Regions from separate parts of the Homo sapiens genome. Here all the other regions are linked to region 1. Evidence: fine-mapped expression QTL. A gene starts in region 1. Each other region holds a variant in brackets. All regions are shown on one strand. Distances are between the middles of the regions. Region 1 holds the start of MTHFD1L (methylenetetrahydrofolate dehydrogenase (NADP+ dependent) 1 like). Region 2 overlaps MTHFD1L (methylenetetrahydrofolate dehydrogenase (NADP+ dependent) 1 like). Region 3 overlaps MTHFD1L (methylenetetrahydrofolate dehydrogenase (NADP+ dependent) 1 like).

What was found.
Region 2: its variant is fine-mapped to the expression of MTHFD1L in whole blood (TOPMed, PIP above 0.99).
Region 3: its variant is fine-mapped to the expression of MTHFD1L in nucleus accumbens (GTEx, PIP above 0.99). The same link has a PIP of 0.9 or more in thyroid and tibial artery.

Annotation. Positions count from the first base shown.
Region 1 is chr6:150,859,762-150,870,540 of GRCh38, reverse strand. It overlaps MTHFD1L (methylenetetrahydrofolate dehydrogenase (NADP+ dependent) 1 like), which reads right to left and starts at 4,839. Exons shown (of 28, transcript NM_015440.5): 1 at 4,492-4,839. The coding sequence starts at 4,718. RefSeq lists silencers at 3,668-3,817, 3,938-4,137, 4,298-4,707, 4,768-4,997.
Region 2 is chr6:151,000,621-151,011,399 of GRCh38, reverse strand. It overlaps MTHFD1L (methylenetetrahydrofolate dehydrogenase (NADP+ dependent) 1 like), which reads right to left. Exons shown (of 28, transcript NM_015440.5): 21 at 1,442-1,581. Among named protein-coding and RNA genes, the nearest start is that of MIR12131, 97 kb to the left of the region's middle. RefSeq lists enhancers at 969-1,705, 1,706-2,444. The variant C/T (reference allele first, on the strand shown) is at 4,977.
Region 3 is chr6:150,882,466-150,893,244 of GRCh38, reverse strand. It overlaps MTHFD1L (methylenetetrahydrofolate dehydrogenase (NADP+ dependent) 1 like), which reads right to left. Exons shown (of 28, transcript NM_015440.5): 5 at 10,359-10,483; 6 at 7,511-7,611; 7 at 5,264-5,400. Among named protein-coding and RNA genes, the nearest start is that of MTHFD1L, 22 kb to the right of the region's middle. The variant A/G (reference allele first, on the strand shown) is at 6,373.

The DNA.
Region 1 (10,779 bases):
ACTACAAAATTTGTGTGACTCGTTTTACTGCGATATTCCCCTTATTGCAGTGGTCTGCAACTGAACCCACAATATCTTAGGGGTGCCTGTACAGGTATGTAAAGGAGTTCAACGCTACTACCACCCAAGCTAATAAAACAAAATAGGTTCATGCTCCCTACAACTTGTTATATGTGTAATGTTTCATTTTTTGGGGTTACTCATTCCTACAGTGACAAAGCAAGAAAGAAAAAGGAGTCATTAGGCTCAATAAATCCAAAAAGTAGCATAAATGTTTCTAATCAGAGATTTTCATGTCCTTGGGGCAGAAAAATGGCCTTGTGAGCTTCCACTTTGGTTGAGGACAGTGGGAAGGAATGTGAGCTCTCTAGCTAGGTTGCCATGTGTAGCTAAAACTCAGAACTAAGCCATCAGCAGCAGCTTTGTTATTTTCACCATTACTGTGACTATTATACAGAATGTATTATTACTGGCCAGGGGCAGTGGCTCATGCCTGTAATCCCAACACTTTGGGAGGCCAAGGCGGGTGGATCATTTGAGGTCAGGAGTTCAAGACTAGCCTGGCCAACATGGTGAAACCCCGTCTCTACTAAAAATACAAAAATTAGCTGGGTGTGGTGGTGCCTGCCTGTAATCCCAGCTACTTGGGAGGCTGAGGGATTATGGTCATCTAGTCCCATCACCAGGAACAACAGGTCACTATGCTTTTGAGGGAGCTCATTCTTTAATTTTTCTGACTAATACACTTCCGCTCCTGGATGTCTATTCCAGGTGACTTCTAGCTGACACACACCCCCACCCACTTTGCTCCAATCCTCGGAGAATCAATTCAGGGCTAGAGTTTCAGTAAACCATGCACATAACTCAATTGAAAGGTACAATATAGCCAGGCGTGGTGGCTCATGCCTGCAATCTCAGCACTTTGGGAGGCTGAGGCAGCAGGATCACTTGAACCCAGGAGTTTGAGACCAGCCTGGCCAACATAGTGAGACTTCATCTCTACAAAAATAAAATTGCAGCCATAAGAAAGCATGAGTTCATGTCCTCTGCAGGGACATGGAAGAAGCTGGAAACCATCATCCTCAGCAAACCAACACAGGAACAGAAACCAAACACCCCATGTTCTCACTCATAAGTGGGAGTTGAACAATAAGAACACGTGGACCCAGGGAGGGGAACATCACACACCAGGGTCTGTCAGGGGGTGGGAGGGCAAGAGGAGGGAGAGCATTAGGACAAATACCTAATGCATGTGGGGCTTAAAACCTAGATGACGGGTTGATGGGTGCAGCAAACCACCATGGCGCATGTATACCTATGTAACAAACCTGCACGTTCGGCACGTTTCCCAGAACTTAAAGTAAAATAGAAAATAAAAATAAAAGTTATGGTTACCCTATACTGCCATCTATTAAGTGTGCAAAAGCATTGTCTAAAAAATGTACATACCTTAATTAAAAATACTTAATTGCAAAAATAAAAAATAAGGTCTCACTCCATTGCCCAGGCTGCAGTGCAGTAGCGCAATCTCCGCTCACTGTAGCCTTGACCTCCTGGGCTCAAGTGATCCTCCTGCCTCAGCCTTCTGAGTAGCTGGAACTACAGGCACGCGCCACGCCCAGTTAATTTTTTAAAATTTTTTACAGAGATGGGTGTCTCACTATGTTGCCCAGGCTGGTCTTGAACTCCTGGGAATGTGATCATCCCACTTTGGCCTCTCAAAGTGCTGGGATTACAGGCATGAACCATGGTGCCTGGCCTAAATTTGTCTTTTCTCTTGTTATAAATGTACCTACTAATAATTTTGATTTGCCTCTAGGATCACTAAACCTAAAATATTTACTATCTGGCCCATTATATATAAAACGTCTGTGGACCCCTGGCTTAGTGAATTGTAAAAATATTGCTGGGCATGGTAGCTCACACCTGTAATCCCAGCACTTTGGGAGGCTGAGGCAGGCAGATCACGAGGTCAGGAGTTTGAGACCAGCCTGGCCAACATGGTGAAACCCCGTCTCTACTAAAAACACAAAATAAGCCAGGCGTGGTAGTGCGAGCCTGTAATCCCAGCTACTCAGGAGGCTGAGGCAGGGGAATCGCTTGAACCCGGGAGGCGGAGGTTGCAGTGAGCCGAGATCCCGCCACTGCACTCCAACCTGTGCGACAGAGTGAGATTCCGTCTCAAAAAAAAAAAAAAAAAATTAATAGCCACCATTTGTTGAGGGACTTGTCTTGTATGTGACAGTCCTGGGCTATGTATTTTGCATGTGTCCTCTCACATAATTGTTTCCATAACCCCTTGAGGTAAGTACTGTTACTCCTCCCATTTTCCTGAAGGAATTGAGTTTGGAGAACCCAGTGCAGGCCCTAAAGCCCCCTACTAACCTCTTTACTCATCTCTAAGGCAGTCATGGCTTTAAACCTAAAAGTATGCATGAATAGCCCAGGCGCGGTGGGTCACGCCTGTAATCCCAACACTTTGGGAGGCCAAGGCAGTCGGATCACCTGAGGTCAGGAGTTCAAGACCAGCCTGGCCAACATGGTGAGACATCCTGTCTTTACTCAAAATACAAAAATTAGCCGGGCGTGGTGGCGTGCTCCTGTAATCCCAGCTACTCGGGAGGCTGAGGCAGGGGAATCGCCTGAACCTGGGAGGCAGAGGTTGCAGGGAGCCAAGATCGTGCCATTGCACTCCAGCCTGAGTGACAGAGCAAGACTCCGTCTCAAAAAAAAAAAAAAAAAAAAAGAATATGTATGAATAAAACCCACAGATGACCCCAAATCTTGAAGCATTCCTTCTGTAACCATTTCACAAGTGCTTATTACATGCTGGGCACTCTCTCCAGGACCTAGGATATAGCACCGAAGAGACGGCTGTCTCATGAAGCTCATATTCCAGGTGGGTGAGACAGACAAGAAATGAGCAAAGAAGGAAGTTTCAGGTAATAATCAGTTTACCTAGAAAATAAAACAGCATGACGGGAGAAGTTTTTTTGCCGCCTATCCTGGCTTCAGACTCTAACCGGTAAGATGAGTCTCAGCAACGTGCAGGTTAAAACCTAATGACCTGACGTGTAATTAATCCCAGCGCTTTTGGGGGCAGGGATGATGGCTTGCGCCCAGGAGTTCCAGACCAGCCTGGTAACAGAGTGGTGCTCTGTCTCTATGAAAATAAAATAAAATAATCCGGGCATGGTAGCGCACACCTGTGGTCCCAGTTACACTGGAGGCTAAGGCGGGAGAATCGCTTGAGCCCAGGAGGCGGAGGCTGCATTGAGCCGAGATGGCACCACTGAACTCCAGCCTGAGCAACAAAGCGAGACTCCATTTCTAAAAGAAAAAGAAGACAGAGAACAAGAAAAACTAAATAAATGGCCCCTTAAAATCATCCGCCACATAATAAAGAGCCTAGGAAACGTATTTTACTGAGATGGGAGAAGGGGAGTGGGGAGGAAAATGGGAGAGCAGAGGGAGGAAGGAAAGGCAGAGAGAAAGGCAAGCAGGCAATGACTAAGAAAGAAGGCTAGAAGGAAAGGGAAGAGGATGTGAATGGAGGAGGTGGTCCGCTGGCCGGGGAAACCGCATCCTGGAACTCGTTCCTAATCCCAGTTCCGAGGGAGGCGGAAGGGGCTTTCTTGCCACCCCCAAGTTGTCCCGAAGGGCTCGCCCTGCAAGGCCCGAGACCCGTGCGCCCCTCTGGGCGAGGGCGGGGAAGGCTGGAGCCCAGGGGCGGGGACCGGGACGGGAAAGGCCGGGCCCGGGGCTCCCAGTTCGCTCTGGGCCCGCAGAAAACCCTGCAAACCCAGCTGCGCGGGGACTCCGTGGGCGCTGCGCGGCGAAGCTGGAAACCAGCGCTGAGACCTCTCGGATTCCCCCCGGCGGCTGTCCCGGGGGCCCGGCTCCACCTTTGCCGTTCCGGGAAAAGCGGACGTCAGCCACAGACCCCAGCCCAGCAGGAGGGGCCGCGCGCGGGGAAGGGCGCACAACACCAGGGAGCTTCGCGCGGGCGGCGCTGGGCCCGAGCCCGCCTCTCCCGAGCTCCGCTTGCCCTTCCCGAACCCCGGGCCAGCCGGCGCGCCGAGCCGCAGCCCCGCCCTCCTCCTGCTCCTCGCCCCCTCCCCTGGTTTCCGCCCCAGCCGCACCGCCCCTTTACCGTCTGGGTCGCGCCCGGCGCGATTGCATCAGAGCCGGCGGCCGGCTGCGCACGTGGAGCCGGGCGTGCGGTCCATGCCGCTAGGCGCCCATTGGAGATGCCCACGCCCACCTGCGCTGCGGGCCCGGTCGGGTACTGGATCCCCCGTTCTCCGCCAGCGCTCCCGGCCGCAGTGCCCAAGCCCGCGTTTCCCGACACACCGCCCGGCCCCCCTAATGAGTTGGCACCAAACACTCGCAGCCCCGCGCCCCGCTCCCCACGGCGGTCCCGGGCGCTCCGCCCCTGGGTCGGGGCCACAGCCGCTGGAGACCTGGGCCAGGGCCAGACCCGACACTCACCTGACGATGGAGTCCCGCGCCGCGGGCGTTCGGCCGCCGGGGCTGCAGCTGCTCCGGGCCTGGCCATCCTGCGGCCGCCGCTGTCCAAGCAGGCCCTCCCGGCCACCGCCGCCGCCTCCGCCGCCGCCGCTGCTAGCGCGACAGGGCACACGGAGGCGGCGCGGAGGGCCCGGGGGCTGGGGCGGGCGGCGGAGCTGGCGCAGGACGAGCGGCAGACGCGTGCCCATGGCGCGGGACGGCTGGTTCTCAGGGGACACGGAGCTGCGGCTGCCGAGGGCGGCGGGGCGCGTGCCAGGGGAGCAGGCGGCGGCGGCGGCGGCGGCGGCGGGAAGGACCTGGCGCTTCCTCCTCGTCCCAGGGGCCCCTAGGGGGCACTGCACCCGGCGGCCGTGACGTGCGGAGGGCGGGGGCCTGCGAGCCGCCGGCCGGGATGTCACGGCTTTGGGCACTTTGGTTTGGTAAGCTGTACCAGACAGAGGGTGGGGTGCGGAGTGGGACTCAGACTCTGCCCTGAGACTCAGCCTCCCTCCCTTCAGCCTGAAAGGCCGAGGTGACCCTTGGTACTCAGGGCGCCAAGTTTAGACGGGAGGGCTTGGATTTGCTGTACTGGAGGTGGCCTGAGGATAAGAGGCTTTGTAACCTTAGGCAGGGGCACTTAATCTCGGTGAGCTTGCGGGGTCTTCGTCAGTACCACAGAGATAACAATGCTCTTCTTAAAACCTTAAAAGGATTTTATAGTCCTGATTGGTTCCAGGGCCCCTCCAGGGGACCCACGTCCACAAATGCTCAAGTCCTTGGTAAAAAAAAAAAAAAAAAAAAGTGTTTGCATATCACCTACACACATCTTCCCATCATAAACTTTAGGTCATCTCCACATTCCCTAAGTCCTCACCTAACATCGTGGAGGGGTTCTTGGAAACTGAAACTTTAAGCCAAATGACTGTAAGGAAAACAGTTTGACCACAGGCTAATTGATATGAGTGAAGTTCCTACAACATATCTGTGGTCACAAAATCGCCCCTAAACTTCGAAATAAAGACCAAAACACTTCTAATATTAAACATTGAAATAAGTGTGAGCCATGCATATATTTAAGGAAGATTTTTAGCTCACGCCTATAATCCCAACACTTTGGGAGGCTGAGGTGGGCAGATCACGTGAGGCCAGAAGTTCAAGACCAGCTTGGCCAACATGGCGAAACCCCATCTCTACTAAAAATACAGAAAATTGGCTGGGTGTGGTGGCGCGTGCCTGTATTCTCAGCTACTCGGGAGGCTGAGGCAGGAGAATCGCTTGAACCCAGGAGCCAGAGGTTGCAGTGAGCCGAGATCATGTCACTGTACTCTAGCCTGGGCGACAGAGCACAGCTCTGTCTCAAAGAAAAAGTTTTTTTTAAACACCCCCTATCCCTCTCGCTTAGAGAAAAATAAAGATTAATAAAAGTGAGATCATTTTTACCGGCTTATTCCAACTCAGGGCACCTCACAGGGTGTGCTCACACACACCCACACTCACACTCGGATCGTGTAGATGCACCAATTTACCTAAAGTGCACTGCACGGCTTTGGGATGTGACAGGACACCAGAAGACAGAGAAAATCCACACAGACATGGATAAAACGTGACAGTGGACCCAGCCAGAAATCTATTTTTTTCTCATCATTATAAGAAAACCACTGAGCAAAATGATGAAATGATGTTATTCCAGGACCTGCTGTACTTATAATACCTAATACAATGTAAATGCTATGTAAATAGATATTACACTGTACTTTTTTATTTCTATGATTTTTTATTATTTTTTGTTATTGTAATTTTTTCAAATACTTTCAGTCCCAGGTTGATTGAGGATACAGAGGGCTGACCATAAGTTCCAAGTAAAGTGGATATCAGATTGTAATTTTATGATTCCCAAGTGAGGGTCAGATTGTTAACTTTATATTTTTACAACCTTATACCCTTATAATTCCCAGATAAGGTGGGAATAAAACTAGTCCAAGTTACAGAGATTGGTTTTCCATTAGCCGAGCACCATACTGGGACAGTGCTGGAAGGACCCTTCATACAATCCTAACAAAAGTAGGGAATTGAGAGCTATTGTCTTGACCTTCAACCTTTGGAAACTGGGGTCCAGAGAGGCCCATCTGTTTACTGGCAGAGCTGGGAGATTGAGGCTGCAATGAGCTGTGAGCGTGTCACTGCACTCCAACCTGGGCAACAGAGTGAGACCCTGTCTCAAAAAAAAAAAAAAAAAAAAAAAAAGGCTTCCTGAAGAAAGTGAAAGAGGTGGCAGCTGGAGGCAAGACCTTAGCAGTTGAGCTAAGGGAAGGTCAGCTAAGGGAAGGAAATGAGCTAAGGGAAGGTCAGTGTTGGAAAAGTGGGAATGTTGGAAATGAAGGAACAACATGAGCAAAAGTCTGGAGTAGAAGAGAGCATGATGAATTTGAGATACTGAGAGCTGTTCAGTCGAGTGGGGAGGGCAGGGGAAAATGAGTAGCAATGGCAAGTAAGAAGAGCTGGGCAGGGCCACGTTGTGGCAGGTCACGAAACCATTGCATTGCATTTTTTTTTTTTTTTTGAGATGGAATCTAGCTTTATTGCCCAGGCTGGAGTGCAGTGGCGCAATCTTGTCTCACTGCAGCCTCCACTCCCAGGTTCAAGCAATTCTCCTGCCTCAGCCTCCCAAGTAGCAGGGATTACAGCCAACCACCATGCCTGGCTAATTTTGTGTTTTTGGCAGAGACAGGGTTTCGCCATCTTGGCCAAGCTGCTCTCAAATTCCTGACCTCAGGTGATTTGCCCTCCTCGGCCTCCTCCCAAAGTGTTGGGATTACAGGAGTGAGCCTCTGCGCCCAGCCCATTGCATTGCATTTTGAAAGCAGTGGAAAACAACTGAAGGATTTAGAATTAGGAGAGTGGCAATCTCAGATGTGTGTTGTAGAAGGATCACAGCAGCGACAGCGTAGACAATAGAAAGTGAAGGCAGCAGACAAATCCGAAGACTGTTTCAGTAACAGGAGAAGAAACGAGAAGTTCCTGAGTATATCCTTGACCAATGGATTGGTGAAAAGTGGATGGATTCATGAGATAAGTAAGAGGAACCATTGGTAGCCTTTAGGATTTGATTGATTTAGAGGGTATATGGAAGGAAGTTGTCAAGGATGAAGCCCCACTTTCTGGCTTGAAGTATAGGTGGTGCTATTCCTAGAGGAAGACCAGAGGAGAGAAGCAACAGGCTTAGCCCTATCAAGATTGGCATGCCTATGGGATATCAGAGTGGAGATGTGGAGTAGGATGTTGGATCCATGGATGTATAGCTCAGGAGAAAGTTCAAAAATGGAGATACAGATTTGATAACCATGGTTATGGGTAAGATCACCGAGAGAGTGTATAGAAGACAGGAGGACCTACAATAGCACCAAAAAACACAAACAAGAAAGAAGCAGAGGAAGACAATGCCACAAAAGAGACTACGGAGGGAAAAACAGTAGGAGAAAAAATTAGAAAGTGGGCCGGGTGCGATGGCTCACACCTGTAATCCCAACACTTTGGGAGGCCAAGGTGGGGAGATCACCTGAGGTCGGGAGTTCGAGACCAGCCTGACCAACATGTGAAGGGGGCCTGCCCCTCCACACCTGTGGGTATTTCTCGTCAGGTGGAGACGAGAGACTGAGAAAAGAAATAAGACACAGAGACAAAGTACAGAGAAAGGACAGTGGGCCCAGGAGACCGGTGCTCAACATGTGAGGACCTGCACCGGTGCTAGTCTCTGAGTTCCCTCAGTATTTATTGATCACTATTTTTACTATCTTGGTGAGGGGAGTGTGGCAGGGCAACAGGGTGATGTGGAGAAGGTCAGAGGGGAAACATGTGAGCAAAGGAATCTGTATCATGAATAAGTCCAAGGAAAAGTACTGTGCCTGGATGTGCATGTAGGCTAGATGTATGTTTCCCTTTACACAAACATCTCAGTGTAGCAAAGAGTAACAGAGCAGTATTGCTGCCAGCATATCTTGCCTCCAGCCACAGGGTGGTTTTCTCCTATCTCATGATCAGCTTTACCCTGAGACATTTCATTCCCAGGGACGTGCAGGAGACAGAAAACTTCCCCTTATCTCAACCGCAAAGAGGCCTCCCTCTTTCACTACTCCTCAGCACAGACCCTTCATGGGTGTCGGGCTGGGGGATGTAAGGTCTTTCCTTTCCCATGAGGCCATATCTCAGGCTGTCTCAGTGGGGGAAACCTTGGACAATACCCAAGCTTTCTTGGGCAGAGGTCCCTGCGCCTTTCCGCAGTGCATTGTGTCCCTGGTTAATAGAGAATGGAGAATGGCGATGACTTTTACCAGGCATACTGCCTGCAAACACATTGTTAACAAGGCACAGCCTGCACAGCCCTAAATCCATTAAACCTTGATTTGATACAGCACGTTTCTGCGAGCACATGGTTGGGGCTAAAGTTACAGATTAACAGCATCTCAAAGCAGAACAATATTTCTTAGTACAGATCAAAATGGAATTTCTTATGTCTTCCTTTTCTGCATAGACACAGTAACAATCTGATCTCTCTTTCTTTTCCCCACATTCTCCCTTTTGTTTTTGACAAAACTGCCATCGTCATCATGGCCCGTTCTTGATGGTCGCTGTCTCTTCGGAGCTGCTGGGTACACCTGCAGACTAACAACAGACAGAACAGGCACACAAGGATTAATATGAAATTTATAATAATGGAACTTCTGATGGTTTTAACCCAAGTGACTGGGTTAAGATTTGCGAGGCCATCAGTAGCTTCCGTAATTGCTTCAGTTCCTGGCACCAAATTTAAATGGGCTTTTGATGCCTCAAAAATTTGTTCTTTTAATTTTGAAATGTCTGAAGTAAGATTATCTTCTCTTCCTTGTAGATGGCATCTAACCATGTCCCAGTGAGGCTCAGACTCATTACAGGCTTGGGGTGTAATACAAAAATCTGACGTATTCCAGTCACACTGTAACTGAAAATGATGTTCCAAGCTCACGAGCTTATCTCCCATCCAAATGACATTTTGTCTAAGATCATTAATCTAATTTGCCAATTTTTGATCAATACCAGATTGTGAATTCCACAATCTTGTAGAATTTTTTTTGCCAATTGTTAACAAAGTGTACCGTCTGAACAGAAGAGTGCAATGCAACTCCTGCCACAGCGGCCATAACTGTGACTGCACTTAATCCCGTAGTCACCGCAATCAAAGTAAAAATGAATCTTTTGGATCTATTTAGAACTCCTTTTAATACTTCAGTTAAAATATGGATGGATGGCGAAGCCTCCTACAGTTGGTCCATGGACACAGGGATCCACATGGCCTCTCTTGCTCTCACTGGTAGAATACAGTGCTGCCAATTAAAAGTTGAATCAATGCAAGTAAACAATCTACAATTTTCACAGGTTATAGTTTGGGAATCTGGGTTAATAACTATTTTTCCTACAACTAGCATATAAGGGGGCTTTACACAAATTTGCAAAGGAATTGTCAGACTGGAATTTAGGTCGATAGTATAAGATGGCTTACCATCTCTTGTTTTTATAGCTTAATTTCCAGACCAAATTCTAATGTGGTGCGAGGCCACAGTAAGCTTCCAAAGTTCCGGACGCTTAGGACCAGTAACAGGACTAACTAACTTTGGTCGAGGTGATGAGATTCCCTTTTCACCCCATTCCCAAGGGTATAGAGACTCTAACCTTTTATACTTATTTTTATCTAAACCTTCTGTTAAGTCACTGTCCACAGTTGGACTCACATGTGCACTGGGACACGATTGAGTTTGTCCTGTGCAATTGCAGTAGAATTGACCTCGAGGTGCCCAATCTATAATGGTTCCGAATTCATTGTTTTGTAATATCACCGTCCTATCAGCCACACATTCTTCTCAAACTAAAACTTCTGGGCCTTTTGATCCTTTGGGAATTTCTTTGGGGCAAGGCTTCCCCTTAGGCCTAGATTTTAATCATCTTTGATAAGAAGGGTCCTGCAAATAATTTACCTGTGGCCTGAGTGACATTCCACTTACCCTGTGATAAGTAAATCCACTGGTGGCACTGACAGTAGGTACTTCTACCAACCAATTTTGGGTTGTAGGCATTAAGCATCCTGGTGCCCTCCCCAGGCAAATAGGAGGATAACAATACCCAGTGGAAATAATCATCATCATTCCTTCTTCCTTGGGTTGGGCAGGGCAACGATCATCCGTGGGGCCAGGTACCCATGCACTATTATTAACATATACTTCAATAGAATTATCCACCCAT
Region 2 (10,779 bases), 140 kb before region 1:
CTTTCTATAATTTTCAGGGTGGCAGGGCAGGGAGGGAGAATTCCAAATGCATCCTACATGGGCGGAAGTAGTTTTTAAAAATAGAAGTTGTTATACAGATTCAATGTCTAAAATCCAGGAAGGACTGTAGCAACAAGGGGTGTTTTGAGTGAAGTCAGAATTCTTTATGATTTACTACTTTTAATCTGTATTATATCATTCTTGCATTTGAAATGATGATGAAGCTTTAGGCAAAAATGAAGTGCTTAAGTGTCGGGTATTAGGAGTGGATTTGGATTTAGAAAACTTCTGCCCTTCATTAACATCCAGCTCTGCATGGTGGACATAGTAGGAGATTTAGATCTGAAGTTCTCGGCTCTCTGCTGGCCTGCTGACATTGTCCATATTCCCTAAGCCTATCAAAACTCAGCTTCCTTATCTGTAAAATGGTATAAAAATCATGTCCACCTCTCCCAGGAGAAAGAATTGCTTTACAGCGTTTCATGATGGCAAACCTGCTACTTGTTTTGACTATGCAATAATCATTGAATATATGACTTTTGTCACATACACAGTACAGTATACCAATTAAGAAATCAGATTTGGCAGTTCGTCTCATATGTGAATATTATGATAGAGAAATTTTATTTTATTTCAAAATGATTAATCAGTATAAAATGTCTTATTCTCCACTTGGAAATTCCTAAAAATGAAACAAAAAAACAACAAACAAGCAAACAACAACAAAAAAACCCCCAAAAATCTATGCACAGGTTTTCTGTGGAAAGGAATATATTTCCTTTATAATGTCTGTAATTTCTATATATATTAGGATAGGTAAATATAAAAAGTCTTTAAAGAAGTTAAAATCGAATTTGTGTTTTCCAAGCAAAGCTCTTAGAAACAATCCAGTATTATAACAGAGTTGTGAGGAGAAATCATAATAAACAGAAAGAGAAGGAAAATAGTTTTAGATGAAATCTGATGAGTTGCAGCATCAGTGAACCGAAAAACTATCTGTACAAACAATGAAAAATCTCTGTCATCAAAGAACTCACTCTAATCCTCTTGTTCTTCGTTCAGGGACAAGAGCCTCTAACCTCCCATTACCATATGGTTATACAATCTTGGCCTGAGTATCAGATGTGAAGCTTGAGACTAAAAAGTGGTTGCATTATGCTCCTTTCCAAAATATTGTTTAGAAAGAACTGTGGGTGTTACTGTTTACTCGAACTTACTAAACTCAAAGTGCCCTATGGTGGTGTTGGGAAAAAACAAAAAACAACACAAAACAAAAAACGTTTTAGATGTCCACGAGGGAGGTCTACAGGAAAAAAAAAGTTTTAAGAAAAATACTCTAGAAAACTATAGTCATTAAATGGGCAGGAATTTTTCAAATGCTCAATTCTGTTTTAACATAATGAAATTTCTTTGGTATTAGGAAGGCGGTGTGGGCACTTACACTTGGCCCGCCTCCATGCATCTTCAGAGCTCGCACCGTTGCCACTAACACAACCACGTTGGGCACCAAGCCGGAAGCTCGGCACTTGATGTTGAAGAATTTCTCCATTCCGATGTCAGCACCAAAGCCAGCTTCGGTCACTGTGGGGAAGCAAGTGGAATATGTGCTATTATCTTCTAAAAACAAAGGTAGGTTTTGGCAATCACCACTATGATTCGAGCTCAAAGGACAGCTTACATTCCTTTTGTTTACCAACACAAAGGTGAACTGATTTCCCCATTGTCATAGAAATGTTCTTCACTTTCTGCCCTAAAGAGACTGCGCCCTCCTCTGCTTCCCACCGCCAGGCCTGAGGGATTCCTTGTGGTGGCCAGGCCAAGACTTTTCTTCCCATATCATAACTCACAGTGAAGCTTTTTTTTTTGGAGATGGTGTCTTGCCCTGTCGCACAGGCTGGAGTACAGCGGCATGATCTCGGCTCACTGCAACCTCTGCCTCCCGGGCACAAGCGATTCTCCTGACTCAGCCTCCTGAGTAGCTACAGGTGTTTGCCACCACACCTGGCTAATTTTTTATTTTTGTATTTTTAGTAGAGATGGGGTTTCACCATGTTGGCCAGACTGGTCTCAAACTCCTGACCTTGTGATCCACCCGCCTCAGCCTCACAAAGTGCTGGGATTACAGGCGTTGAGCCAAGGTGACCAGCCAGTGAAGCTTTTCTTCATACAGATGGGGATTTTCAACTTTGTAATCAGGTTCCAAATTGTTTCAAAAGGCAATGATAGTATGATTACAATGGAAGATCCTTTCTTACTCTTTTTTTTTTTTTTTTTTTTGAGATGGAGTTTCGCTCTTGTCCCCCAGGCTGGAGTGCAATGGCACAATCTCAGCTCACTGCAACCTCCGCCTCCCGGGTTCAAGCGATTCTCCTGCCTCAGCTTCCCAAGTAGCTGGGATTACAGGAACCCACCACCACACCCGGCTAATTTTTTTTTTTTATTGTTAGTAGAGACGGGTTTTTGCCATGTTGGCCAGGCTGGTCTCAAAGTCCTGATCTCAGGTGATCTGCCCACCTTGGCCTCCCAAAGTGCTGGGATTACAGGCATGAGCCACCACACCCGACCCTTTCTTACCCTTTATATTAAGAATAATTTATTTTAGTGCCACCCAGTAATTTCTGTTAACTGACAAATTTCAAGTTAGTTGAAGGGCATAAGGATACTGATGGTCAATCTGGATACAAGACAGCAGCTTTATTAGAGAAACACCAGAAAACACTCGTTTCTAGTCCCCACCCCCTCAGTTGCTAGAAAGGTCACAGCTGCCTTTCAAGATAGCGAGGCACTGGGTCAGTAGTATCTTCTTCATACACAAAGAGCTCTAGGACCTTGCTGCTCAATGCGTGATTCGTGATCAACAGCATCAGCAGTATCTGAGAGCCTCTAAGACATGTGGAATCTTGGGCTCCCCACAAAGTTTACAGAATCAGAATCACATTGTTACAAGATCCCCAGGTGAGATGATTGTCCATTACAATCTGGGAAGCAAACCACTCTAGGAAGGGAATACTACTGAGTTAATACAAAGTAAATGTTTATGAAATACATACTTATATGCTGACGGTATGACCAGGACACCGATCGGAACTGGCGGGAGAAAAATTAACTAAGATATCAGAAACATTTAACATGATCAGTTTCCTTGCTGTGCTACAAACTTTCAAAATTTACAATTATAAGTGGCAGCTTATAATTTTGTTAAGTTGCTGTAGCAAGATTTACAAAATTGTTCCCCCTGTTACTGAACATTTGGGTTGTTTCCAATATAAACAATACTGCACTGAAAATATTTGTGCCTATGTGCTTTAATCTCTTTCAAATTACGTTCTTGGAATAAATTCCCAAGGGTAAGGTAATAGGGCCAGAGGACATAAAAAATTTTTATGACCATTGATATGCTTTTGACAAATTAAAAAAATTACATCAAAAATGTTCAATTTGGATAAATATAGCTACAAGCCATTTATCCTTTATTATGTGTTATTTGAACAAACAAAGTGGCAGAACAATTTCGAGAAATAAAAGACATTCCTCTTTATATAGTATTTGGGACAAATCTTGTGATTTTACTTGTAGTGGTCAAAATCAGAGAAAATCACTTACAGTAACAATCCTTACCTCAGTGGTACCTCCTGGTAATGCATTTGTTAACTTTAGCCGTTGGTGGCATCATGGACCCCAAAAGAGGGATAATCCGGGTGACTTTTGTCAAAAGTCATCACTGAGTGGGCTCCTGGAGGTGGAAGGCTGGACAATAAGGCCCCAGTACTGGATTATGCGGCGCTGTCCTGCAGGTTAGCACACGGACGGGACCCCGGATCCCTCCCAGCTGTGCACCTTGGCAAGTTCCTTGTTGGAAGGGTTAAGTGAGACGGCACAGGTACATTACTGAGTCACTGGGGTTTTTCTTGGTGCATACTGAGAACTCACAAAAATAGTTCACATCTTTGTAACCAAAAGGATAATTCTCCCACTTGCTAAAAATCATATTGAATTCCTAAGCATTTGTGGGAATTCCTGCTCCATCCAGGCGTTTTTCTCACTGGTAGAAGCTCACTCTTAGGGTCACTACCCTGAAGCCCTGCAGGGAAGTGGGAGAGAGAACATCTGCTATTCAACTAGAGAGAGCTGGAGGGCGGCACACTGGGAGGGACGGAGTTTGCCTGGGAGGGTTGGAGAGAGGGGGTGATGGAGTCAGGCTCTGAGAATCAAGTAGGATTTTTCCAAGCAGAGAAATGTGGAGTTGGGTATGGCAGGCAGAGACCAAGAGGAGGAAGGAGAGGGAGGAAAGAAGAGATTCATAGGTAAAGGCAGAGCCAGGGAAGAAATGGTCATGATGAAGGGAAATCATCCATCATGACTGGAGAAGTCATTATTTCACCAGCAAGACTGGTTCACTGGCCTGATTAGTACCGGGGAGTGGGACTGAAGTAACCCAAATGTTACGCATTTTTTTCAATGCCATGGTATTTTGAAAAACTGTTTAATGTCGCCCTATAGTTGGAGGTAGATTGTTGCATACATTTTACATAACGGGGGCTGATCAAGTGATCTCTAAGTTCTTTCCAACTGGATGCATATTTATGTGTTAAACTACCCTGTTAGATTGCAAGCTCCATGATGATACGGACCATGTGTTTGAGACATTAACATGTCAAGACACATAGAAGGCACTGAAGGAAAGTCACCATCTATCTCCAAACCAAATAAAAAGAGAGTAGCAGAAAAGCACATCTAAAAACACTTGGACACAAATATATTAATGAAAAGTTTCATTTATAACCATTGAATGCCCTTGAAAAATTGCAAGCTCAAATTCCCTTCAAAAACCTAGCTCCTCCCCCCTTCAATGCGCCCGTGTAGTCACCATGTTCTCCTGTCTTCAGTGGTTCCTGCTTCCCTAAAGTGCCTTAATATAAAAGTCAAGGCCACCCTTGTGTAAACTTCCTTCCCCTACCTTCATCTTCCTTCACACT[C/T]CCTGCCTCAGACTTCGTGCCTCTGTAATATCAAGCTTCCGGCACAGCCCACATACTCTATGTTACTTGTTGTCACCTCCAGACCTCTTTTCCCATGTGGAACATTCCTCTCTCCCCTCTCTGCCTCTTTAACCCGCTGTCCAAGACTCAGCTTGGATGTGCCATTTCCTGGAAGCTTGTCCTGATGCTTTCGGGCAAAGTTGGCTACTCCTCCCGCCCATCCCACCCTCCCGGCCCTGTGGTGTGCTCCCTTGCAGGGCCCTCATCTGTCACCACATGCAGCATCCTAAGTACACTGACGTGCCGTCTCCCACATGGAGGGCGGGACCACGCCTTATTCATCTGGTAGCTCCACTTCCTAACGCAGTACCTGGCACAAGCAGGTCAATGAAAAAACAGGATGGGACTTGGGAGCCAGTGATGTCAAGGCCACACTTCAATGGAAATAGACACATAAAATAGCATTACATAGAAGTACAAATATGTTCTTAGTCCTCCCTATCATACTTCCCTTTTTTTCTTACAATACTACAATGGTTTTACTGAAAGGCATAAATGTCATATCCGATAAAGATATGACCATCTAAAACATCTACACAGGCTAGCTAAGCTTAATTTCATATTTTAATTTACTTATTCATTTATTTTTGAAACGGAGTTTCACTCTTGTCGCCCAGGCTGGAGTGCAATGGCACGATCACAGCTCACTGCAACCTCCGTCTCCTGGGTTCAATTGATTCTCCCACCTCAGTCTCCCGAGTAGCTGGGATCACAGGCACCCGCCATCATGCCCGGCTAATTTTTGTATTGATGGGGTTTCACCATGTTTTATTTTTAAAAAGAGACCAATTGGAAACAAAAAAGTAGTAATAAAGAGAACTCTAGCTAGGGGACGAAAACAACATGCAGAAGTAAAGGTTCGAGGAGTTTGGCTTCCAAATGCAAAGGAAATAGACGAAGAATGGGAAGAAAATAAAAGAAAGTGCCAAATTCTCTCAGTTTGAAAACTGTCCTGAAATGCTGCATGTAATCACTTTTATGTCGTTTGTATTCAAATATCAGGCTGCCAAGGAAACAGAACATGGAAAAGGTATGCTGATGTGTAATCAGTAATTATGAAAGTAAAAACTACTTTAATAAGGTGCCACCAATTACTACGAACTTGGACACTGTGGAGTGCTGTGTATCTGTGCCTTAGGGGGCCTTGATATGAAGACCCATCTCGTGAGAAGGGGACAAACCACTCTTATAGGAAGGTTCCATTTCCTAGGTACTTCTTGGGAACTGCCAACATATATAACCTATAGGTTAGGTTTTCTTAGTGACTTGAAATGAGCAATTTATTCCCTTATCATATTTGCAGTTCTTAACAAAGCTTAAAAGAGATACAGGCCAAATAATTATTTAATGTTAAATTCAATATAGACTTGTTCTTAAGTCATGAAGCAAGTCCACATAGTAGGATTTAGCTTTGCTGAAAGGCATATCACGTAGACTTCTGAAAGCTGCATATTTAATAAGGCTTGTAATAAATTGTTTGCACAAGCCATAAGAATTATTTGTCTTGGCAATCTCTTTCCCTTTTGTTACAGCTATTCAACTTACAATATGAATGAAAACAGGAAACGCTGACTAATACTCTTATTGTGCAAGCACAGAAGCTGCTAGATAGTGATTCTATAGCATGGTTTGATTCAAACTTAAACCCGTAATCAGCTGAGAAAGGAAGGGTCAGTGGGTCTGAGTTGGGAAGGGACAATTTGGGTAAATACTGCTAGCAACCTGTACAGGAAACAGAGCTCTGGGTTCAGATGGAGAGTCAAAACAATTCTGGAAAGCCAGGCAGCTGCCTTTCCATGATCATCCACGGGTGCGGCCAGAGTTGTGTTGTAAAAATTAAGCAGAAACAATGATAACGGCAGAAACGAGAACACCAGAACAACACAACATTCCTGGCAGGCAAATGTAGTATCCATGATATTCTTCAGGGAGGGAGAGACGATTTCTACATCTTAAGTTATTCTGTATGTCCCCACCTTACTGCACACATTAAAGAAAGCTGCAGCGATAATTAGGACTTGGATTTTTTTGTTTGTTTTGAGATGGAGTCTCATTCTGTTGCCCAGGCTGGAGTGCAGTGGTGTGATCTTGGCTCACTGCAACCTCCGCCTCCCACGTTCAAGTGATTCTTCTGCCTCAGCCTCCCAAGTAACTGGGATTACAGGAGCGTGATTTTTGTATTTAGTAGAGACAGGATTTCACCATGTTGGCCAGGCTGGTCTCGAACTCCTGACCTCAAATGATCTGCCCGTCTCAGCCTCCCAAAGTGCTGGGATTACAGGCGTGAGTCCTGGCCAGGACTCAGATTTTAAAGTAATCACCAATCTCTCTCTCTCTTTTTTTTTTTTTTTTTTTAAAAAAAAGCATTAACATCCTCACTTCATTAGAAGGCCCTTTAAAATATGGGTTCATAAAACCCTACAGCTATGTGGGAACTGTATGGACAATGTACTCTAACTTTCTCCTGTGCACCAGGCCAGTTACTTTCTGGAGATAATGACACAAAGCCCAGTGTGGTGCCCCCGGTCCCTCTGATGCCCAGCCCAGGGTTCTGTCTGCTACATATGGCATTCTCCTCAAAAACATCATTAAACACTCACATCACAGAATTCAAGAACAACCTTTCTTTCTTCTCATTCAATAATTACTGAACCCCTACGATTGTGCCTAGTGTCTTGCCTAGTGTTTACACACAATCATCTGTGTGCCAGTGTCTTCATTTAGTGGAGAAACAGCCACAGGCACATTTTTAACATGACAAAGATGGGAAAGATTAATTCATCACCTAGTGAAAAAGAACGTCTTTCTGACCTTTCCCCCCTTTTTTTTTGGATATGGAGTTTCACTCTTTTTGCCCAGGCTGGAATGCAATGGTGCGATCTCGGCTTACTGCAACCTCCGCCCTCCAGGTTCGAGCGATTCTCCTGCCTCAGCCTCCCGAGTAGGTGGGACTACAGGCACCCACCACCACGCTCGGCTAATTTTTGTATTTTTTGTAGAGTCAGGGTTTCACCATGTTGGTCGGGCTGGTCTCGAACTTCTGACCTCAGGTGATCCGCCCACCTCGGCCTCCCAAAGTGTTGGGATTACAGGCGTGAGCCACGGCGCCCGGCCAACTTTTCTGTTTTTAATGTGTTTTTTGTTGTTGTTGTTGTTTTTCTTGAATTCTGTTTGGTACTTTCAAAATTGTGCTTATTTACCTGGATCCAGGTAAATTTGAATTCAGTTCTGTGCCACACTGATTTTTGGATGTTCTCATGCTTTAGTGCATTCACAGAACCCATTTCTGCAGAATCACAAATCCTAAGTACAGTTCAGCCCTTCTCGACTGGAGGCGGTTCTGCCTATTCCGCTCCCCACCTGGACACTTAGCAATGCCTGGAGACATTTTTGATTGTTGTAAATGGCATCTAGCAAGGATGCTGCTAAATATCCTATAATGCACAGGACAGCTGGGACCCTCCCCCCGCCAACAAGGAATAATCCACCCAAGGTCTCCATAGCACTGAGGCGCCGACAGCTTGCAGTGGCTCACGCAGGAGGAAGGAGCCTGGCGCTTTCTAGACGCCTCCTCTGAGAATATTACGAATGCACTACATGCTAGGCAGAAAGATTGTGCAAGATCATTATGCTAATCGTTGTAACCCTGTGCACTGTAAGATCCTGGAATATGAATTATCGCAGTAAAAATTCCGTCCAGCGTGGTTGGGATGTGTTGCGTCAACAGTATGGTCGCTACAACCCAGCACTCTCTGGAGAAGAAAAACAGTGATGAGGTGACTGCTGAACCAGCTTCACAGGGAAGAAGGGAAGGTCAACAGAAATGCTCTCAACATGGGGCAGCATGGGCGGCGGCAGCTGTCCGCCTTACCGCTCAATGTGCACACGATGGGGAAAAACCATTCTAAGAGACCGAGGCATGGGGAGAGGGCCTCAAGTTAACATTTGTGAAACATTTTCTATGTAGCCAGGCAATGTACTAGGTGTCCTGTCTCACTTCACCTTCAACATCTGTGAGGCATCTTTCTCCTCCATTTACAGTTTATGATACTAAGGACTGGAAAATTTTATAATTTTCCCCAAGGTCACACAGCTATTAAGCGATAGAGCTTGGACTAAAACCAAGGCCTGTCTGCTAGCAACCTCTGCCAAAGTCCCTGCTCCATACTCCTCATCAAACAATCAACTGATCACATAGCATTTCCCTAGCTGAGCTGCTTGGTCAGTTTTGCTTTCAGTGAAAATCTTAACACTTGGTACTTCAATAATACTCCAGCATTTAACAAGTAGCTCTAAATTATTTTCCTGAACTGAGAGGTAAGTGTGTCCAGGCTTTTGTTCTAACTGCAATAAGGCCCTGCTGTGATTACCAAAGTATGCAATCTAGAATGTTCTTTATGATCCTCCTTCCTTTCCACCCACCCTCCCTTCCTTTACTTAAGTCAGAGTGCTTGTTGTCTCTTTTAGAGCAATTCATTTAGAGATTATAAATCACCTCCTCTGCTAGTTCTTGGTCCATGTGTCAACAGTGATGAGTTCTGGGGCAGCAGCAGGGAGTATTCTGTTTGACAAAGAAACACTTCAGAGAGAGGATGCTCCAGGGACCACTTCCACCTGGACTTGGTACCCAACCCCAGGCAGGAACAGGCCACACAGGTAGAGAACACTGGCGCTGCAATCCGGCCTCCTGAGGTCCAGGTATTTTACCCACTCCCAGCCGAGTGATCAGATCCCAAGACTTGCCTTCCTAACCTCCCCCAGCCAGGCACCAGCTCTCCCTTCGCTGGATGGGAAATGAGTGACCCCAATGCTCTAGCCTGGGTTTTCTTTTCAAATTTTACTTTCTGTTGTCAGCACATGTGCATGGAGGGAAAAGAAAAGGCAAGAACCGCTTTAGATCTGAAATTCTCATTTCTGCTTTTACACTGGGGAAAACCCTCCTTGGACTTTGAAAAATAGTTAAACTGAAGTGCTGAGATAGTTTTTCCGTAAAGTTTTCTTAATTTCTACTTGAAATACCTGGATGTTGCCACCAGAATTGCAAATTAAACTTCTGCCTTGCTATGGCACTAAGAGGTCCTTTATTCCATGGGTACTCAGAAGATAAAGAAATTAGAACTGTCGGATTTCATGGCTACTTCACAATGGTAGCAACTTTTCTCTCCATGTGTGCAACAAACATATATCAAATATACAACATATTGAGTTCACCATTACGTCTGGACACGAACTTGAATTTATGGACTGCCAGAGGTTTCACAGAAGAACTAGTCCTTGCAACTAGCTCAGCTCAAAATAGGTTAAGAAATATGAGCGCACGGGGCGTATCTGGCTAACTTAATCATCAAAAGAATTTCTTGTAAATAAGAAAGAAAAATAAAACTGTAGCTTTCATTCAAGTAAAGGCTACACTTTGCTTCCTCACAACAAATCAAAAACAAAAATAGAAGCTTTGTAGAGGAACAAGCAAGGTGTATGCTGGACAGTACCTCATTCTGAAGCGCTGTTGGTGTTAACTGCCAAACAGTGCTAAAAGAAATAGAAAGTAGAATCTTCAGGCTGCCTTTTTCTGCCCTATATAAACATGTTTATTCAATGGCAGCTGTCTGCAGATAAACTCAAAAAAAGTCACAGCAACACATGAATTCTGAACTTGAATTAAAGGGGAGAAAGTGAGGATTGTAATGACTTTTTCAGTGACTACCAGGAGACAACACCAGGATAAATCATTCAATTAACTATA
Region 3 (10,779 bases), 23 kb before region 1:
AAAAATATAAAAATTAGCCAGGCATGGTGGTGCTCGCCTGTAATCCCAGCTACTCAGGTGGCTGAGGCATGAGAATCTCTTGAACCCATGAGGCAGAGGCTTTAGTGAGCCGAGATCGCGCCACTGCACTCCAGCCTGGGTAACAGAGTGAGCCTCTGTCTCAAGGGGAAAAAAATCCCTATCTGTTGTTAAAATTTTTACTTCCAGTGTTTTTCACAGTGAAGCTTTTCCAAGGGTGTGCCAGGTGTCCTGTCCTGATTGGGTGCCCCAGGACACTAACCCATGCCTAGGTGGCTTTTTGCACCACTGTGGCCTCCAGACAGCCATTGAGTGGTACAATCCACATATTACCATGTCTCCATATTACCACGACTCCAAGGAAGGCTAGAATTCCTACTCAGGAAATGAATGGCAAGGGTTTTCTGCCCCATACATTCTTCTTGTAAAAATACAACAACAGAATAGTGACAATTCAAACGTCAGGCAGACACAGGGAGGCATATGGGTTACGGGGAAGTATGTGGCTAGTGAAAGACTAGCTGCTAACATGAAAGACACAGGCTGTCATTTGTGGTGGGACAGGAGCCTGACGTAGGTAGGTAGGCCAGGTAGAGGGGGACAAGTATGGGGCGGGGCTATGAACATTTCTTCCCATATTTTTGGCTACAAAGATGAAGCAATAATAAGAATGAAAGTTGATAGCCTCTAACATTCGCAATGGTGCCACTATAAATACCAAGGACTTAGGGAAAAAAACGTGTGTGCAACATCAACTATGAAAGAGAACCTTCTGGTCCATATGAAAACAAGAATGTTACCCAATGACCAGATTCTCCAGAAAGTGAAGCCACTTAATCGTTCTCAAAGTTCAGATGAGATTCATCCCAAAGTACAGAGACAAGGTGATTTATTCCCGTAATAAAAAAGTACTTTGAAAAATGTCTTTGTTTTTCAAAAATATAGATACAACTAGCAAAAGTATCTGTGACAGCTGCGAAAACATTCAATTGCCAAGGAAGGTATTTTCTCTCTTCACCACAGCTGTTCAGTGCAGGGCACGGTTTATTTTCCTCTTCCACTGAGCTTCCAAATCAAAATTTCTGGGCTCTCAAGTGCAAACTATTGCCCTTGAATTTTCTTGGATAGGCTGCCACCATGTGGTGACTGCTAAAAACGCACACAGGTTCACGTTTCATTGCAAGGCTGCCTTCCTGAGCTGTCTTAACCCAAGCATTACATAAATTGGATCCACCTGCCATGCAAAGATTCCAAATCTGCTGAGACACCTGGCTTCCCTGGCACGATTACAATTTACTCCTCATTTCCATTCTCACCCTGCAACATGAGGAACATGTATTTTTAGATCACATTCTGTAGTTACTGATTGTACTTAATGCATTCATTTAAAACTTCACTTTGCTTTAGATCTGTGAGCTGTACCATCATTTTTTAAAATGAAAAACAATCATTTCAGACATAGAAATGGAAAACAATAACCTAACATACCTAGACAACACCTATTGCCCAGTTTAAGAAAAAAGGCATGAAGGTGTCTAGGTTTCCTTTCCATCTATATCCACATCCTTGCCTCAATAAATGCTTTTCGGATTTGGTTCGTAGTTTGCATTATTTCTTTATATTTTTACTTCATTTGCATGGAATCCTAATATATATATAAGGATTATATAATTAATACATAATAATATAATATATATTATATATAATCCTAATATATATATTAAACAGTGATCTAAATGTCCTGACCTAAATATATATATTAAGATTCTATATATATATAAGGATTATATGTAATACATATTATATGTATGTATGTATTAGATTACATATATATATATATGTTGTGTTGCTTTCAGACACATATAAATGGTGTTGTATGAAATACATCCTTCTGCAACTTGGGTTTTTGTTCACTGAACAGTGTTTTAAAAAATTCTTCCAGCCCGGGCGCGGTAGCTCATGCCTGTAATCTCAGCATTTTGGGAGGTCGAGGTGGGCGGATCACCTGAGGTCAGGAGTTCCAGACCAGCCTGGCCAACATGGTGAAACCCTGTCTCTACTAAAAATACAAAAATTAGCTGGGCATGGTGGCGCACACCTGTAGTCCCAGCTACTCAGGAGGCTGAGGCAGAAGAATCACTTGAACCCAGGAGACAGAGGTTGCAGTGAGCCGAGTTCGCGCCACTGCACTGCAGCCTGGGGGATAGAGGGAGACTTCGTCTCAAAAAAACAAACAAACAAAAAACAAAACAAGAAAACATGTTGCTATCTACAGCTCTAGTTTATTAATTTTCACTGCTTGTATATCATTGTTTTATGAACTATGACTATGCATACTCTACATGCAACTATACTGATTTATCCTTTCACCCTGATGGGCATTTAGATCACTGTTTAAATACTTGTTGCAGTGCACTTGGTTTTTCAAGTCGCCTGCTTGGCTCTCTTCCAAGTTATACTTTCCTTCTTTCCTTTCCTTACTGTTCTAGAGCTTTTTGCTAGACTTTCCGTCCTGCTCTGAAACTTGCCTCAGTCTCTCCTTCTGCCTTATGGCCCTCAGTCCAATTCTTTCTTCCGAGGAGGCAAGAGCTGAAGTTGCTGCAGAACTGTACGGATACACCAGCACGAACTCGGGATAACTCGAATAGCTGCCACCGGTAACATATTTGGTGCGCGTGACTCAGATACATTCCCTAGTGGTCATCAAGCTCCAGAAGATGCTCAGGGAGGGATACTGTCCTCTCAATATTCAATAGTCACCGTTCCACAGGGGACCGCTGGCCTGCCCATCAGTGAAGGCGAAATCCTGCCCCTGTCTCCCTTGAACCTGGCTAGATACCGCTTTCACCAACTCATGGAGCCAACTCAGCCCTGACAGCAGAAAGGGGCCAAGACCCACAGAACCACCACTGCCCCTCTGTCTTAAACAAACAAACAAAACTTTTTGCACTATAAACATGCTGCTCTGACCATTTGTAAACACACCTTTGTATATATATGGGCAAGTTTTGTCTATTATATATATATATACACACACACATATATATACACTTTTTATTATTATTTTTTTGAGACGGAGTTTCGTTCTTGTTGCCCAGGCTGGAGTACAATGGTGTGATCTCGGCTCACCGCAACCTCTGCCTCCCGGGTTCAAGCAATTCTCCTGCCTCAGCCTCCTGAATAGCTGGGATTACAGGCATGTGCCACCACATCCAGCTAATTTTATATTTTTAGTAGAGATGGGGTTTCTCCATGTTGGTCGGGCTGGTCTTGAAACCCCAACCTCAGGTGGTCTGCCTGCCTCAGCCTCCCAAAGTGCTGGAATTACAGGGGTGAGCTATCATGCCTGGCCATATCATATATATTTAGAGTGAAATTCCTGGGTCAAAGAGTAGCTCAAACTCCATTAAACTGCTTTCCGAAATGCCTATTTCAAATTTAAACTCCCGCCAGCAATATATGAATTCCCATAGCTCCAGACATTTGTCAATATGGCTAACTGGCACTTTTTACCTACTGCCAATATGACTGGTGAGCAAAAACAGCAGGAAACCAGACAGCTTTTCACGTGTCTTTTAAACCTCGGGTTCCTCACCTGTTAGTGGTCTGTCATGTGTCCATTTTTCTAACAGATTGTCTTTGTCTCACTGATTTGTAGGAATCTTTTATAAGACACTAATTATTGGCTAAATGTTTGTTGTAAATATCTTCTACACTATAGCTGTCTTTTCACTTTTTTAAGAACTTCTTTTCAGAAAGAAAAACTTTGGGGTTTTTAAAAATTTGGATGCAGTCAGATTTATATACCTTTTCTTTAGCAATCTGTGCTTTTGGGGTCTCTTAAGCTATCCTTCCAACGCCAACCTCTTAAATGCATACGCCTATATTTTTTTCTATAAGTTTTACAGTTTTGCTTTCCACATTTAGGTATTTTAATATAGAAGTGATTTTTATATGTAGTGGCAGGTTAGTAATCCTATGCTAGACTCATATACATAACTAGTTAAGTCAGCACCATTTTTAATAGTTAATGTTTTAGCTTTTTTTTTTGAGACGGAGTCTCACTCTGTCGCGCAGGCTGGAGTGCAGTGGCACGATCGCGGCTCACTGCAACCCCTGCCTCCCGGGTTCAAGCGATTCTCCTGCCTCAGCTTCCCGAGTAGCTGGGATTACAGGCTTGCGCCGACACGCCCGGCTAATTTTTTTGTATTTTTAGTAGAGACGGTGTTTCACCATATTGGCCAGGCTGGTCTGAAACTCCTGAGCTCAAGTGATTTGCCCGCCTCAGCCTCCCAGAGTGCTGGGATTACAGGCATGAGCCACCACGCCCGGCCTTTAATAGTTAATCTTTTCCCCACTGATCTGTGGTACCTGCTCTCAAGCTTCCATATATGCATAAATTTCCACTTTCTTCTGTTCCGATCGTCTGTTTGTCTACCATATTATCCTAATTACTGTAAGTGCATAATAATTCACACTGTGTGGCTGGGAATGTCTCCCACCTAGTTTTTCCACAAAATTGTCTTGACTCTCTTTGTCCTTTATGCTTCCATTTGGATTTCAGAATCAGACTGTCAAATTCTACAAAATTTGCAGACAATTAGTATCTTTAAGATATTGCATCTTCTCCATGAAGATGATACCTCTGCTTTTATATGGGTCTTCTTAATAATTTTCATCAAAATTATAATTACTTTCAAAAGGTCATAATGCATATTAGATTTACCAAATGACTGTTCTGTACTTACTATGGTGAGAATTTAGTTTTTAATCACAATGTGGTGAATTACAGTGACAGACTTTCTCATGTTCAATCACCTGGAAATCCTAAAATAAACCCTACTTCCTGCTGTATTTGGTGTTCTCAGATTTCGCTCACGATTATTTCATTTATATTCATAGCTGAAACTGGCCTGTTAATTTTCCTTTAGCATGTTACCCTTCTTTGGTTTTGGCACTCATAAAGTCTGTTAGGCCACGTTCCTTCTTTTTCCATTTGCTGGAGAAAAGGATTGTATTAGAATGATCTGTTCTTTGTTTGATAGAGCTCATTTGTAAAACCACCTGTTGCCTTTTCTTGTTTGTTTGTCTGGTGAGTAGACTCATTCAATGTCTTTAATGGATATGGGTCTATTCAATTTTCTTCCTCTAATTTCTTGAATTAAGCACTTAGCTTATACATTTCTAGACTTTCTTCTGTTCTAACAGAAGCCTTCAAGATGTATGTTTCTAACATGAAATTTACCTTGCTTTGAAGCTGGCGTGTTTTCCACTGGATGCTCATTGTCATGGACCCTTTTCTCTGGAACAGGCATTGTAGAGCAGCTTCCAAAGACCCATGGGCCCCCACTACCAAAATCTTCTTTCCATCTAGGTTGACACCTACTAACCAAATGAAAATTCAATATTATACTCAAAACTTCAGATCCTTCCTTTAAGAACTTTATCTTAAGAAAAAAAGACCCTTTTAGGCTGGGTGTGGTGGCTCATGCCTATAATTCCAGCACTTTGGGAGGCTGAGGCAGGCGGATCACTTCAGGTCACGAGTTCAAGATCAGCCTGGCCAACATGGTAAAACCCCGCCTCCACTAAAAATATAGAAAATTAGCCAGGCGTCATGGCACATGCCTATAATCCCAGCTACTTAGAAGGCTGAGGCAGGAAAATCACTTGAACCTGGGAGGCAGAGGTTGCAGTGAGCCAAGATCACGCCACTGCACTCCAGCCTGGGCAACAGAGCAAGAATGTCTCAACAACAACAAAAAACCCTTTTAAAACTTGAACTTTCTCAGCACCAACCTACAATGACTAGGAACTAGGAGTGGGGTGTTGTAATCAACAAAAATTCTCTATTCAAACCCTTTTGGTTCCAATTCCTGTTGCTGAATTTCTTTCCACAATATGTAACTATAACTCACCAGCCTAATTTACTCTTTTCTTTGAGTACTTTCTAATGAAGTGGCTCAGAATCTTCATCTTGATAATCCACGTAATGAAAAAGCACTGTATATATGGATTATTTCATAGATTTGAGCTTAATATTACTGTCCAAAAAGCATATATATCCTGAATGTTAACCTTTTAATAAAACTTTGCCATATATTTTTGAAATTTTTCTTTGATTGTTGGATGTTCAGGGGTAGGGAGGGGCATTTGCTTCATTTCTATTCAAACTGGAGTAGAGAAAAAGATTTAGTTCGTTGAATTTTTTCTTTTCTTTTTTTTTTTTTTTCAGATAGGATCTTGCTTGTTGCCCAGGATGGAATGCTGCGGTGTGATCACAGCTCACTGAAGCCTTGACCTCCCAGGCTCCAGCCATTCTCCTACCTCAGCCTCCCAAGTAGCCGGGACTAC[A/G]GGCACAAGTCACCACACCTGGCTAATTAAAAAAAAAATTTTTTTTGGTAGAGATGGAGTCTCCCTATGTTCCCCAAGCTGGTCTCAAACTCCTGGGCTCAAGCAATCCTCCCATCTTGGCTCCACAAAGTGCTGGGATTACAGGTGTGAGCTACTGTGCCGGCCCAATTAGTTGAATCTTTATGTTCTCAGAAAGCCCTTAAATATATAAATACTTGGTAGTAATTTACTCATTAAACTTAATAATGAAGAAAGAGAAAATATTCATTTCTATTTCACTGACATAAAAACGCCAAGTCAAGGGGACAACAATGGAAATTAAGTCCTGACTACTGAAAAGCAAGCTGCTCACCAATAAATCCCAACCTAGGCTCCTGTGCCCTAAACTACATCTACCGGCTTCTTCTTCTTCTCTTTTTTTTTTTTTTTTTTTTTTTGAGGCAGGGTCTTGCTATATTGCCCAGGCTAGAGTGCAGTGGTGCAATCACAGCTCACTGTAACCTCAAACTCCTGGGCTCAAGCGATCTTCCCGCCTGAGCCTCCAGCATAGCTGGGACTACACGTGCACACCACCATACCCAGCTAATTTTTAAATTTTTTTTGTAGAGACAAGGTCTCAGTATGTTTGCCCAGGCTGGTCTCGAACTCCTGGCCTGAAGTGATCCTCTGGCCTTGGCCTCGCCTAGCACTGAGATTATAGGCATGAGCCGCTGTGCCTGGCCTCATTTAAGTCTTCAACGTAAGTCTTATCTAAGGCTACATATTGATAGATTTAGTAAGCTGAAACTGGAAGCATATTTTACTGTGGTTATTTTGACTGTTTCATGAGAGAAATTGAGCATGTTTAAAACAGGGCTAATCGTTTATCTCTACTAATTTCTCTTTTAATTTATAAGATGGTCTTACTAGAAAAAGTTTCTAGGTATTCATCTGTATCTCCCAAAAGATGAGAAAAATAAAAAAAGTCAACGTGAAATATCACTTCTATGTTCAATTAGAATCTTCTAGAAACATCCTAAAAGGATATCAGAATAATAATTTAAAAAAATTTTTAATTCTTCCCCAAACAAATCCTTATTAAAAATAATGTAAATACCAATAAATAGAAATCAGCGGCATTTCTCAAGGAGCATCCTACCTGATTTTTCAAGAAGTTCAATTACAGCTTTGGCAACAGGTGAAACAAAACATTCATGGGCATCCCCTCGCACCAGCTTCCCCAGGTTTATGTCTGTTACTCTGAATCAGAAAATAAAGAAGTAGGTTAAGTCAAAGCCCAGCCAAAAAAATCACTCACGTGTAATGTACATATATTAACCCCAAATAACATCCAAGTCAATGTTTGATAGACAGAATACATAAAAATGAATTAAAGAGGACCAGGCATGGTGGCTCACGCCTGTAATCCCAGCATTTTGGGAGGCTGAGGCGGGTGGATCACATGAGGTCAGGAGCTCGAGACTAGCCTGGCCAACATGGCGAAACCTCAACTCCACTAAAAATACAAAAGGTAGCTGGGCGTGATGGCACGTGCCTGTAATCCCAGCTACTAGGGGGCTGAGGCAGGAGGATCGCTTGAACCTGGGAGGCAGAGGTTGCAGTGAGTTGAGATCATGCCACTGCACTCCAGCCTGGGCAACAGAGCGAGACTCCATCTCAAAAAAAAAAAAAAACCCATAAAAAATGAATTAAAGAGAAAGCAGGCAATAAAGGCCATTCAATAAAGGTCTTAGAAAATTCTAAGGCAGTACCTTAGGAAACTTCACCCTGGCCCTGACATTGGGTGTTCCGGTTCTGCCAATATACCAGGACACAGCCTAAAGCCATACAGGGCTTCACTTCGCAACTCCAGGGAGCTCCTTTCAATGGACCCCAATGGACTAGCATCCCTAGAGTTACACAGAAGCATGGTCCTGCAGTCCACTCAAAACCCAGAACCAATCCTATAAATCTGGAGTGACCCAGTAAGACCTGGGATTGAGGCACAGGTCACAGGTCTGATTTCAACTTGACCTCGATATTTATCTCCTTGAGAAGTCGGGGTGGGGGGCAGTGGAAAAAATGAGTGACCACACACTTCTGAAGGGTTCTGTGCCTTTCCCTGTTCAAATCTAGGACAAAACATTCCACAGCTATCTAGCCTAAACTGAGCACGTCAATCTCAGTAACAGAATGGAGACATTTAGAACCATTTTCGTAATTTCTCCTTTTACTCTCTGTTGTTTTTGTTTGGTTGGTTTTTCCTGGCTGGGCCTCAGCATGAATTCCCCTCCTTTTATGAAAGACTTGAAACTATGCCCTAGGACCTTCAAGTTCTGAAAGTTTTCTCATGGATTAGTGCTTCTTCTCCTTTTACAGTTAGTCTACGACAGGACTGGAGATTGTCGTTTTTTAAAAAAATGTTTAATTATTTACTTAAAAATAGAGACAAGGGGCCAGGCGCGGTGGCTCACTCCTGTAATCCCAGCACTTTGGGAGGCCGAGGCAGGCGGGTCACGAGGTCAGGAGATCGAGACCATCCTGGCTAACACGGTGAAACCTCGTCTCTACTAAAAGTACAAAAATTAGCCAGGTGTGGTGGTGGGCACCTGTAGTCCCAGCTACTCGGGAGGCTGAGGCAGGAGAATGGTGTGAACCCAGGAGGCAGAGCTTGCAGTGAGCCGAGATCGTGTCACTGCACTCCAGCCTGGGCAACAGAGTGAGACTCTGTCTCAAAAAAAAAAAAAAAAAATAGAGATGAGGTCTCACTATGTTGTCCAGGCTGGTCTTGACCTCCTGAGATCAAGAGATCCTCCTGCCTTGGCCTCCCAAAGTGCTAGGATTACAGGTGTGAGCCACTGTGCCCAGCCAGGACTGGAGGTGTTCATGACACCTTTTCAGCCTGTGTTTGGGTCTACTCAAGTCACAATAAAAGGCTAGAATGGAAGATTGCTGGGTGTCTCAGGAAGGTGGTAGCCTCCCCATCCAGCCCCTGCAGGGTCTACCGGATCTGGAATCTAACTTTATAAATCTGCTTACAACCTATAACCATTAACACATTGTGTTCTTTTTGGCCACAGTACAAAACACTTCCTATATTTCCATGGAGGAAAATGGGGTTTTAATCCCCAGGAAGCATGCTTATCCCCCACTGGAGACGGCCGGTATCCTTTGTTCTATGAAGCTTATGTCACTCCATGACATGAATCACAGGCCAACATTACAGCACCCAATAGTTATGATGTTCCCCTCCAAATTTCAAATAAAACCTTGTGTCATTAAGAAAAGTATTTATTTTGCTTTTCTCAACTGGCCTGGGACTAAGACAGAATATGGTACTGCTGGGGAATCAGGTTTCTAAGTTTTCTTCTCTGGTCTGGTAGAATTACCAAGGAAAAAACTATTAGAAGAATAGAGCTGGCTAAAGATTGTATAAGTCAGACCGGAATTTATTAAATGAATCTGATGGTGTAAGATCATATGGCATTGAAGCACTATAAAAGGGCTAATGTATTTTCCAAAATATGTAACTTTTGCATGCAGAATTTTAAAAGGCTACAGATGGCCAGACACGGTGGCTCACGCCTGTAATCCCAACATTTTGGGAGGCTGAGGTGAGTGGATCACAAGGTCAGGAGATAGACACCATCCTGGCCAACATGGTAAAACCCCGTCTCTACTAAAAATACAAAAATTAGCCAGGCATGGTAGCGCATGCCTGTAATCCCAGCTACTCAGGAGGCTGAGGCAGGAAAATCGCTTGAACCCAGGAGATGGAGGTTGTGGTGAGCCAAGATCACGCCACTGCACTCTAGCCTGGGCAACAGAGCGAGACTCCATCTCAAAAAAAAAAAAATCCTATAGACTCCTGAAATATTTAAAATGATTTTTTTATCCAATTACTGACACAGTTGAAATAAATAGAAGAAATTTAGAAAAATAAAAGCAGGCACAATAGAAAAAGTGATTTAGCCATAAAGGTTGATTATTTGATTTTATTTTCTTACCCATCCACATCTTTTTCTGGTTTCAAGGCATTGAGGACTTTGTTGCTAAACAAGTTCTCAGAGATCTGAAGGGCAAGGCCATGTACTCTGGTATCTTCATTGATCTTTAAGATTTCATCTATAATCTAAAGAGAAAACAAAAAAACAAAATAAAAATTAGTTTTGTGAAAATGAGACCCAACAAAGGAAGCTTTATATAAAAAGTGGATTCATGAAAATGCATCTGTTATAGTTTGTTGTTGTTTTGCTCCTTGTTGGAAACTTGGTGTAAAGCATAATAAAAAGCCTATTTTTTTCTTTTCATCATGTGTACAAGGCTCAAAAAAAAAATTAAAAGGCTTGGCTGAATTTTTTAGTGACTTCTCTGCCTTTCTATGGCTCTACTCTGTGCCAGAAAAAGACAAAACAGAACAAAACCAAA